Linked DNA regions of Homo sapiens. The protein of the gene in region 1 interacts with the protein of each later gene in a pairwise test. Each region holds a gene or a part of one and is shown in the gene's direction. Other genes may lie near its edges. The genes, in order: CHGB, RCC1 and PKN2.

What was found.
Region 2: the proteins of CHGB (region 1) and RCC1 interact in a two-hybrid assay, tested with the Homo sapiens proteins (one large-scale study listed by BioGRID and IntAct).
Region 3: the proteins of CHGB (region 1) and PKN2 interact in a two-hybrid assay, tested with the Homo sapiens proteins (one large-scale study listed by BioGRID and IntAct).

The regions. Positions count from the first base shown.
Region 1 is NC_000020.11:5,917,876-5,921,530, forward strand, and holds part of CHGB (secretogranin-1 precursor), read left to right. Parts: intron 1-3,655. UniProt on the Homo sapiens protein: Secretogranin-1 is a neuroendocrine secretory granule protein, which may be the precursor for other biologically active peptides.
Region 2 is NC_000001.11:28,512,505-28,516,159, forward strand, and holds part of RCC1 (regulator of chromosome condensation), read left to right. Parts: intron 1-3,655. UniProt on the Homo sapiens protein: Guanine-nucleotide releasing factor that promotes the exchange of Ran-bound GDP by GTP, and thereby plays an important role in RAN-mediated functions in nuclear import and mitosis.
Region 3 is NC_000001.11:88,690,695-88,694,349, forward strand, and holds part of PKN2 (serine/threonine-protein kinase N2), read left to right. Parts: intron 1-1,029; exon of another isoform or gene 1,030-1,086; intron 1,087-3,655. UniProt on the Homo sapiens protein: PKC-related serine/threonine-protein kinase and Rho/Rac effector protein that participates in specific signal transduction responses in the cell.

The DNA.
Region 1 (3,655 bases):
TGTAATCCCAGCACTTTGGGAGGCCGAGGCAGGTGGATCACCTGAGGTCAGCAGTTTGAGACCAGCCTGGCCAACATGGTGAAACCCTGTCTCTACTAAAAATACAAAAAAAAAAAAAAAAAATTAGCCAGGCATGGTGGCAGGCACCTGTAATCCCACTACTCAGGAGGCCGAGACAGGAGAATTGCTTGAACTTGGGAGGCAGAGACTGCAGTGAGCCAAGATTGAACTCCATTGAACTCCAGCCTGGGCAACAAGAGTAAGACTCCATCTAAAAAAAAAAAAAAAAAAAAAAACTCTCATTGCCACCAGCCTGGCCAATATGGTGAAACCCCATCTCTACTAAAAATACAACAACTAGTTGGGTGTGGTGGCGGGCGCCTGTAATCCCAGCTACTTGGGAGGCTGAGGCAGGAGAATCGCTAGAACCTGGGAAGCAGAGGTTGCAGTGAACTGAGATCGTGGCATTCCACTCCAGCCTGGATACAGCCTGGGTGGCAGAGTGAGGCTCCATCAAAAACAAAAACAAAAACAAAAAAAACACCAAATAAACACCTCTCGCTGCCAGACAAGACTCTCTTGCTATAGCTATACATGAGCCCTCATGCATGAAATGGTAAAAAGCAAATAGTGATTGGCCAAAAGAGTAACCTGAGGCCAGGCGCAGTGGCTCACACCTGTAATCCCAGCACTTTGGGAGGCTGAGGCGGGCGGATCACAAGGTCAGGAGATCAAGACCATCCTGTCTAACACAGTGAAACCCCATCTCTACTAAAAATACAAAAAATTAGCCGGGCGTGGTGACACACGCCTGTAGTCCCAGCTACTCAGGAGGCTGAGGCAGGAGAATCGCTTGAGCCCAGGAGGTGGAGGTTGCAGTAAGCCGAGATTGCCCCACGGCATTCCAGCCTCAGTGACAGAGCGAGTCTCTGTCTAAAAAAAAAAAAAAAAAAAAAAAAAAAAAAAAAAAGAGCAACCTGAATTAATTCAATCTTTGGGGGCTTCAGGTAACAATGGTAGCTGTGGGGGCCTGAGCCTTTAGGGACCCTAGAAACAGTGGATGGAAGCTTTCCTACCACTCCCAGCCCACATACCTCTTTCTGAGTTTCTTTCCAACTTCTTTTTTCCAGCAGTTACAGGAAGTGAGTAAGAGCAGAGTGGGTCACTAGGCAGAGAGTAAAGGCTGCTCCTTTTGGCAAACCCATCTTGGTATCTCCCTTTCCCTTTCTTTGTTTACTAGACCAATGCAAAAGTGAGGGGCCTGTCCCATCAGCTCACTAAAGAACCACAGTTGCTTAGGAAAAGTTGCCTATGCCTGCCTGCCAAGATCTTAGCCCTTAGATTATGGCATAGTAACTCTAGCCTCTGCTCCAGCCCTGATTATGCCCTGAGGTCTTTTGGTGTCTGTTGAGAGAGACGTAGGGAAACTGGGAAAAATCAAATGTATCTAAGGATCCTGGAGATGTTATACCCAGAGAGTGACAGAATGCTGAGATGGCGAAGGTTTAAGAGCTCTTCTGTGGTTGAGCCTTAAACACCAGGCAGAGCTAGACAGACAAATAACACAAAAGAGTAAGGCAGGACAGGAAGTGACTCACAGACTGGAGGGCACATGCCTTTTCTGAGAGGGAGCAGGTAATTCTCAGCTCTAAACCCGTTATGGAGAAATACAGACTATGTTGTCAAATCTTGGGATTTTTCAAAAGAAGTTAAAATTTTGATTTTTAAAAGACATCTCCTGGTATTTTCATATCGCCTCTGAATTCAGATGTACTAAAACTGCTGTTTAGGTCAAACAGAATTTACCTCTGATGCACCAGTTTGCAACTTTTATCCTATTCTAGTTCTCTCTCTCTTGTTGGCATGTCGTAAACTGATCAGAAGACTGGTGGAGCTTTTGCCCAACTGGTTGGATGAATGCCTTTATACAGCCTCTGTTCCACCCCACGCCCATCTCCACTCCCACTCCTACTTGCATGTCTCAGAGTCAGCATATACTCACTGAGCAAATGAGTATTTGGGGAGTAGGACAGAATCATTGTTTTATGGATTTGAGAGACCTCAGGGAAGACGTAGTCTAATTTCTTCACAGGTACAAGAATCTCTTTGACTAGGGTTGATCTGGTCATCCTTACAGCATGACAGATGCATTTCCCTGTTTTCGCTTGAAAGTAAGTGTGAGCTTCACAGCTTGATTTTACAGCTTGACAGTGAGTGTGTGCTGCTATCACAGCCTCTTCCAGGCCCACCTGCGGGGCTTAAAGCTAAATTTAGTAGGAAGAGCTAAGCCTCAGGCACATGCTGCTCAGGCAGTACATATTTAATTGGGAAAAAATAAAAATACTTCTGTTCCTGACACTTAAGACTCACAAACCAGTAGGCAGTAGGAAAGGGACCACAGTGACTCGGCCCCTGGAGGCTGAGATCTTGTCTGATCAGCTCTATTTCAACCAACTCTCAGAATGACATCAGTATCTGTCTGTCTTAGTCAGCTTGGGCTGCTATATCAAATACCATAGATTGGATGGCTTAAACAACTAACATTTATTTTTCACAGTTACAGCAGTCGGAAGTCCAAGATCAGAGTGTCTTATGAGGGCCCACTTCCTGGCTTGTAGATGGCTGCCTTCTGTCACTGTATCCTCATCTGGTGGAGACAGAAATCATCTCTTTCTCATATCTCCTTTCTTAGGGCACTAATCCCATTGTAAGTGCTCTACCTTGATGACCTAATTACCTCTCAGAGGCCCCCACCTCCACGTGCTATCACATTGAGGATTAGGGCTTCAACATTTTGGAATCACACAAACATTTAGTCAATAGCACTGCCCAGAGCCACCATGCTTCCCTGTGCCCATCTGGCTAGCCATGCCCCAATGCTATACACACCACCACTGGCTTTTAAGAGGCAAAGAGACTGGTGACAGATGGGCCTTCTCTCAGATGTCTGGAAAAGGCCAGGGACATTTTCATTGCCTCATAAACATGAGAATATTATTATCATGCCAGACTGGACTTTAAACAGAGAGGTACAGAGAGTCCACTATTTCTTGGACATTTTTACAAAATAAATAATTTTTTTCCATTTTGCAAATATCATTTCAAAATAACTTATCAGTGCCACCCAATAGAAATATAATGTGAGCCACAAATATAATTTCAAATTTTATAGTAACCACATTTAAAAAGTAAAAAGAGACAGGTGGAAATTAATTTCAATAATATATTTTATTTTTATCCAATTTTTTTCTGATATATAATTTTATAAATCTGATCTATTTGAAATATATATTATCCAATACATCCAAAATATTATTTCAACATATAATGATATAAAAATTGTTGAGATTATTTTACATTATTCTTTATTCTCAGAAGTCTGATGTGTATCTTACATATATAGCATGTCCCAGATCGGACCAGCCACATTTCAAGTGCTCAACAGCACTTGGGCTTATGGTGCCTGCAGTGTAGACCCAGAGCTGTCAGTGGCCTTGGCTTCAGGCATTTTATCTGAACTCTGTGACATAGGTTGAAATCCAAGCCCTCCCAGCTAACAACTGAGACAATGCTAACTGCCTATCTCCTTTCATGGGGTGCCCTTGAGTTAAGGAGGACTTAGTAAAGGAGCTATTGATATTTGGAAAAGATGGAC
Region 2 (3,655 bases), on another chromosome or scaffold:
TTTGTTTTTATCTTTATTATTTTCTTTGCTTATTTTGGGGTTAGTTTGCTCATCTATTCCTAGTTTCTTAAGCTAGTAGCTGAGCTCATTGATTGGAGACCTTTCTTTTTTTCTAATGTAGGCATTTAGTGCTATAAATTTCCTCCAGATACTGTTAACAACACACAAATTCTGGTATGTTTTGTTTTCATTTTAATTCATTTCAAAATATTTTTGAGTTCCTTTTCTATTCTTTGATCTATGGGCTACTTGAAAGTGTATTATTGTTGTTGTATTAGTGTTGTTCAAATCTATCCTTGCTAGTTTCTTTTTTTTTGGAGACTGCGTCTCCAAAGGCTGGAGTGCAGTGGCACAATCTTGGCTCACTGCAAGCTCCGCCTCCTGGGTTCACACCATTCTCCTGCCTCAGCGTCCCCAGCAGCTGGGACTACAGGTGCCTGCCACCATGCCCTGCTAATTTTTTGTAGAGATGGGGTTTCACCATGGTCTCAATCTCCTGACCTTGTGATCCACCCGCCTCGGCCTCCCAAAGTGCTGGGATTACAGGTGTGAGCCACCGCGCCCAGCCTCTTTTTTTTTTTTAGACAAGAGTCTCACTCTGTTGCCAAAGCCAGAGTGCAGTGGCACAATCTCAGCTCACTGCAACTTCTGCCTCCGGAGTAGCTGGAATTACAGTCACGCACCACCACGCCCAGCTAATTTTTTTGTATTTTTAGTAGAGATGGGGTTTGCGCGGCTGAAGTGCAGTGATGCGATCTCAGCTCACTGCAACCTCTGCCTCCCAGGTTCAAGCAATTTTCATGCCTCAGCCTCTGGAGCAGCTGGTACTACAGCATGCACCACCATGCCTGGCTAATTTTTTTGTATTTTAGTAGAGATGGGGTTTCACCATGTTGCCCAGGCTGGTCTCAAACTCCTGAGCTCAGGCAGTCCGCCTGCCCTGACCTCCCAAAGTGCTAGAATTACAGGCATGAGCCACCGTGCCTGGCCTTATTTTAAAATTTTATTTCTTGTAGGTAACATGTTGGGTTTTTCAGTATGACAGTCTATGTCTTTTAATTGGAGTGTTTAGGCTATTTACTTTTTTTTTTTAAGACAGGGTCTCACTCTGTCACCCAGGCCAGAGTTCAGTGGCAAGATTATGACTCACTGCAGCCTTAAACTGGAACTCCTGGGCTCAAGCCATCCTCCCAGCTCGGTCTCCTGAGTAGTGAAGACCACAGGCATGTGCCACTATGGCTGGCTAAATTTTGTATTTTTTGTAGAGACAAGGTCTCATGATGTTGTCCCAGCTGGTCTTGACCTCCAGGGCTCAAGCAATCCTCCCACCTTGGCCTCCCAAAGTGCTAGGAATACAGGCATGAGTCACCATGCCCAGCCATATTATACATTTTTAACTTACAATAGTCCACATTCAATTGATATTAAACCAGTTCACTTGTAGTATAAGAATCTTCCCCAGCCTGGCCAATATGGTGAAACCCCGCCTCTACTAAAAATACAAAAAAAAAAAAATTAGCCAGGTGTGGTGGTGCTCGCCTGTAGTCTCAGCTACTTGGGAGGCTGAGGCAGAAGATTGCTTGAACCTGGAAGCAGAGGTTGCAGTGAGCTGAGATCGTGCCAGCCTAGGCAACAGAGCAAGACTCCGTCTCAAAAAAAAAAAAGGCGGGGCCCGGTGGCTCACGCCTGTTATCCCAGCATTTTGGGAGGCCGAGGCGGGCGGATCACGAGATCAGGAGATCAAGACCGTCTTGGCTAACACGGTGAAACCCCATCTCTACTAAAAATACAAAAAATTAGCCGGGCGTGGTGGCGGGTGCCTGTAGTCCCAGCTACTAGGGAGGCTGAGGCAGGAGAATGGCATGAACCCAGGAGGTGGAGCTTGCAGTGAGCCAAGATCGCGCCACTGCACTCCAGCCTGGGCGACAGAGCGAGACTCCGTCTCAAAAAAAAAACAAAAAAAAAACCTTCTGGCGGCCTGGTGTGGTGGCTCACACTTGTAATCCCAGCACTTTGGGAGGCTGAGACTGGCGGATCACCTGAGGTCGGGAGTACAAGACCAGCCTGACCAACATGGAGAAACCCCGTCTCTACTAAAAATACAAAATTAGCCGGGCATGGTGGCACATGCCTATAATCCCAGCAACTCGGGATGCTGAGGCAGGAGAATTGCTTGAACCTGGGAGGCAGAGGTTGCAGTGAGCCGAGATCATGCCATTGCACTCCAGCCTGGGCAACAAGAGCAAAACTCCATCTCAAAAAAAAAAAACAATCTTCCGGCTGGGCACAGTGGCTCACGCCTGTAATCCATCCCAGCACTTTGGGAAGCCAAGGCAGGCAGATCACGAGGTCAGAGCGAGACTCCGTCTCGAAAAAATAAATAAATATTTCTTCCATTTCTCACTATATAGTCTTTGATATTGTCATGTGTCTTACTTTTATATATGTTATAAAACCCACAGTACATTATTACAGCCAGAACCTCCATATCAGCCAGTTGCGATGGCTCACTCCTGTAATTCCAACACTTTGGGATGCCAAGGCAGGCTGACTGCTGAGGCTCAGAAGTTCAAGACCAGCCTGGCCAACATAGTGAAACCCTGTCTCTACCAAAAATACAAAAATTAGATGGGCAATTAGCTGGACGTGGTGGTGCACGCCTGTAATCCCAGCTACTCGGGAGGCTGAAACAGGAGAATTGCTTGAACCCAGGAGGCAGAGATTGCAGTGAACTGAGATCACGCCATTACACTCCAGCCTAGGCAACAGAGTGAGACTCCGTCTCAAAAAAAAAAATTAGCTGGGCATGGTGGTGCACATCTGTGGTCCCAGCTACTCGGGAGGCTGAGGCAGAGGTTGCAGTGAGCCGAGATCCTGCCACTGCACTCCAGCCTGGATGACAGAGTGAGACTCTTGAGACAAACAACTGGGGCTGGGCGCAGTAGTTCACACGTGTAATCCCAGCACTTTGGGAGGCCGAGATGGGTGGATCACTTGAGGTCAAGAGCTCAAGACCGGCCTGGCCAACATGGTGAAACCCTGTCTCTATTAAAAATACAAAAATGAGCCGGGCATGGTGGTGCGTGTCTGTAATCCCAGCTACTCTGGAGACTGAGGCAGGAAAATTGCTTGAACCCAGGGGGCAGAGGTTGCAGTGAGCCGAGATTGCACCACTGCACTCCAGCCTGGGCAACAGAATGAGACTCCATCTCAAAATAAAATAAAAAATACAAATACAAAACTAAAAAAATAAAAATAAAGGCCAGGTGCAGTTGCTCATGCCTGTAATCCCAGCACTTTGGGAGGCCAAGATGGGCAGGTCACCTGAGGTCGGGAGTTCCAGACCAGCCTGGCAAAAATGGTGAAACCCGGTCTCTACTAAAAATACACAAAATGGCCAGGCGCGGTGGCTCACGCCTGTAATCCCAGCACTTTGGTAGGCTGAGGCGGGTGGATCACCTGACGTTTAGGAGTTCAAGTCCAGGCTGGCCAACATGGTAAAACCCCGTCTCTACTAAAAATACAAAAATTAGCTGGGCATGGTGGCAGGCGCCTGTAATCCCAGCTACTCAGGAGGCTGAAGCAGGAGAATTGCTTGAACCCAGGAGGAAGAGGTTGCAGTGAGCTGAAATCGTGCCATTGCACTCTAGCCTGG
Region 3 (3,655 bases), on another chromosome or scaffold:
TACTTGGTTTTTTTTTGCAATCACAAAAATGAAATTTGTGTAACATTATATACATAAATATTGCCTGTAAAAAATGAAGATCAAGAAAGCATGGGACAGTGTACTTGATGACAGTAAACACCTTAAATGTGAAGGTAGTGTTGAAGTGCCTCATAAAGATGAGTGGATATACAAGACTTACATAATATTGTTAGGATTTATCTCTTTTAGAAATTTGTCAGTGACTTATCAAATTGGTGAAAGTTTTACTGCCCTGGCTCATAAGTACCTTAATTTAATGGAATGTAGTTATGACAAAATTTGGAATTTATTTTTGATTATAGAAGACATACCACACAATACATGTGCTGAGAGTTTTTTATTTATTTTATTTTTATTTTTATTTTTGAGACAGGATCTCGTTCTGTCACCCAGCTTGAAGTGCAGTGACGTGATCTCGGCTCACTGCAGCCTCTGCCTCCTGGGCTCAAGTGATTCGCCCATCTCAGCCTCCCAAGTAGCTGGTACTATAGGTGTGAGCCATCATGCATGGTTGATTTTTATATTTTTTTGGAGAGACGGGGTTTTGCCATGTTGCCCGGGTTGGTTTTGAACTGCTGGACTCAAGCAGTCCACCTGCCTTGGCCTCCCAAAGTGCTAGGATTACAGATGTGAGCGTCTGTGCCTGGCCTGAGTATCATATATTTTACACATTAATCATACTGTTTTCCCTTCCCTGTAGTTGCTACCTTAGGGATTCTTTAAGGAGGTGTTTGTTCTCCATTTCAGAATTTTCATTGAACAAATTTTATGCAACTTTTGGATTTTTAAAAAATTTGTTAAACATCAGGCACACTGCATTGGATTAATCACCTATCTGTCTGTCAATCATTTTAATAAGTACTCATGGACCACCACTCCCCCTCTCTCAAAACAAGCTAGGAACTTTAACCTACGTATAGTTTTCCTCTATTCTATCCGTCTATTTCCACCTTCTTGTCATCTAGGTCATCATTTTTGAGTCCTGTGTTCATTCTCTTCCTTATATAGTAGTCCCTCCTTATCCACGGTTTCAGTTACCCATGGTCAACTGTGGTCCAAAAATAGGTGAGTACAGTATAGTACTATAAGATATTTATAAGTACTAAGATACTTTGAGAGAAACCACACTCATAACTGTAATTACAGTATAGTTATAATTGTTCTATTTTATTATTAGTTATTGTTAATTGCTTACTGTGCCTAATTTATAAATTAAACTTTAGCATAAGTATGTATGTTAAAGGAAAAGTGTAAATAGAGTTTAGTACTGTTCGTGGTTTTAGGCATTTACTGAAGGTCTCTCGGTGGATAAAAGGAGACTACTGTGTATAGTTTAGTTGGACATATAAATCTAAACATCTTTTAGTTGTTTGTATAGAATTGTGAATATAATCTTTTTGAACTTGATTTTTCACCTGTTATAAATAAGATTTATCCACATTTTTGCATGTTGCTATAGTCATTATTTAAATTGCTATATAATATTTCATTGAGTAAAATATTCATTAACTCTACTTTGGTGGATATTTGGATATTTATCCACTCTCCCTTGTTGGGCAGTTATTTTCCATTTTTTGTTTTGTTTTGTTTGTAATTATAAGCAAAGATCCTATGGACAGTCTGCATGTTTCCTACTGTGCATGTGCCACAGTTCCTATTATATACCTAGAGGTAGCATTGCTGCCTCACAGGGTAGGTGAATGTTCAACTTAAGAGATGATGCAGAACTTTCAATATGGTTGCACCAATTTATATTCATATTAGCAATATATGAAATAAAAGATCCTTTGGTTATCCATCCTCTCCAACACTTGATATTCTCTTTTTAAGTTTTACAAATCATAAGGGTGTAAAATGTTGCCTTATTGTGGTCTTGATGCGCATTTTCCTGGTTATCACTGATGTAGAACACTTCTTTTTATGTTTGTCGGCCTTTTTACGTGGCTTCTTCAGTGAAATTCCTATTTATGTCTCTTGCCTATTTTTGTTTTTCTTACTAGTTTATAAGAGTTCTTTATATTGCTTATGTTAATCCTCTGTGTACATTGTGAATGTCTTCTTTCAGTTCCTAACTTTTTCGCTTTCTTTTATGGAGTTGTGTGGGAGGGACAGTTTTAAATGCCTCTACCTTCTTTGGCAAATATTTGGAATAATTTACATCGTTATCATCAACAGGCTTGTATTTAATATCTATTGTACATTTGGTATAGAAAGGGTAAAGTTATATTAATAGTTTATGGCCTGGGGATTTGTAAACTATCCAAATGAACAGCCATAGGAAGTTGTATAAAATATTGTATTGCTTCACACATGCTAGGCACCCAAATGCTAGGTTGATTTAGTTAATGAGTAAATTCAGAAGCAAAGAAATAGCAAAAATTATACATACACTTCATCAGTTGCTTATTTTCCAATTCCATACCTCTCTGTTGCAAACTACTTATTATTAGTCATTAATAATATTTTATTCTTTTGTTTAAAGGGCAGTATATTCCGTAAGATTATGTGAGTCAGTTATTTAGGTATTTTCATAGCTTGCCATTAAAATGCTGGAGTTGATCAGATTTAATACTGGATATAAAGCAAAATATTAATCTTCTGAACAGTTTACTAGTTCAGAAGTTTACAAACTCGGAATCCTAAATACAGTTTTTGTCATTGCTGTGCATCTTTTGATAAAAAAAATTCTTAAGTCAAATTTGTCCATTGTTTATCATACAGTAAGTCCTCACTTAATGTCATTGACGGGTTCTTGGAAACTGACTTTAAGCAAAATAACTTATAATGAAACCAGTTTCTTTTTTCTCATCAGTGTTCTAAGGAAATGATATTATAAACAATGAAACATTAGCCAGAAGTGGTGATGCACACCTGTAGTCCCAGCTACTTTGGAGGTGGAGGTGAGAGAATGACTTGAGCCCAAGAGTTAAGGCTGCAGTGAGCTGGAATCGTGTCATTGCACTCTAACCTGGGCAGCATAGTGAGACCCTGTCTCAAAAAAAGAAAGAAAAGAAATGATATTGAGCGAAACAGCATTATTAAAGGACCTGAAGCACATTGTTTTTCTTAAAGTCTCAGTTCCAAGAACCTATCAGCAGTGTTAAGTGAGGACTTACTGTAATTGCTTTTCATGCCCTTTTAAATAAATTATTCCCTATCCTGGGTTTAAAAGATAGCTACCCAAGTTTGCTCCTAAGAATCTTGCAGTTTTATTTTTTAGATTTAAGTCAGTTTATCTGGATTTGTTGTTTTTTAATAGACTTCATATTTTAAAGCAGTTTTAGGTCCACAGCAAAATCGAGAGGAAGGTCTAGAGATTTCTCAAATAACTGCGTCCCTACATATGTACATATGCATTATCGACATCCTCCACAAGAGTACATTTGTTGCAGTTGATGAACCTATATTGACACATCATCATCATCCAGAGCCCAGAGTGCACACATCTTGGTGTTGTGCATTCTATGGGTTTGTACAAATGTATAATGACATGTATCCAGCATTATAGTATACAGAATAGTGTCCCTGCACTAAGCTTATTCTCTGTGTTCTACCTATTCATCCTTCCCTCTCCTCCATCCCCTGGCAACCACTGATCTTTTTACAGTTTCCATAGTTGTGCGTTTGGGAAAAT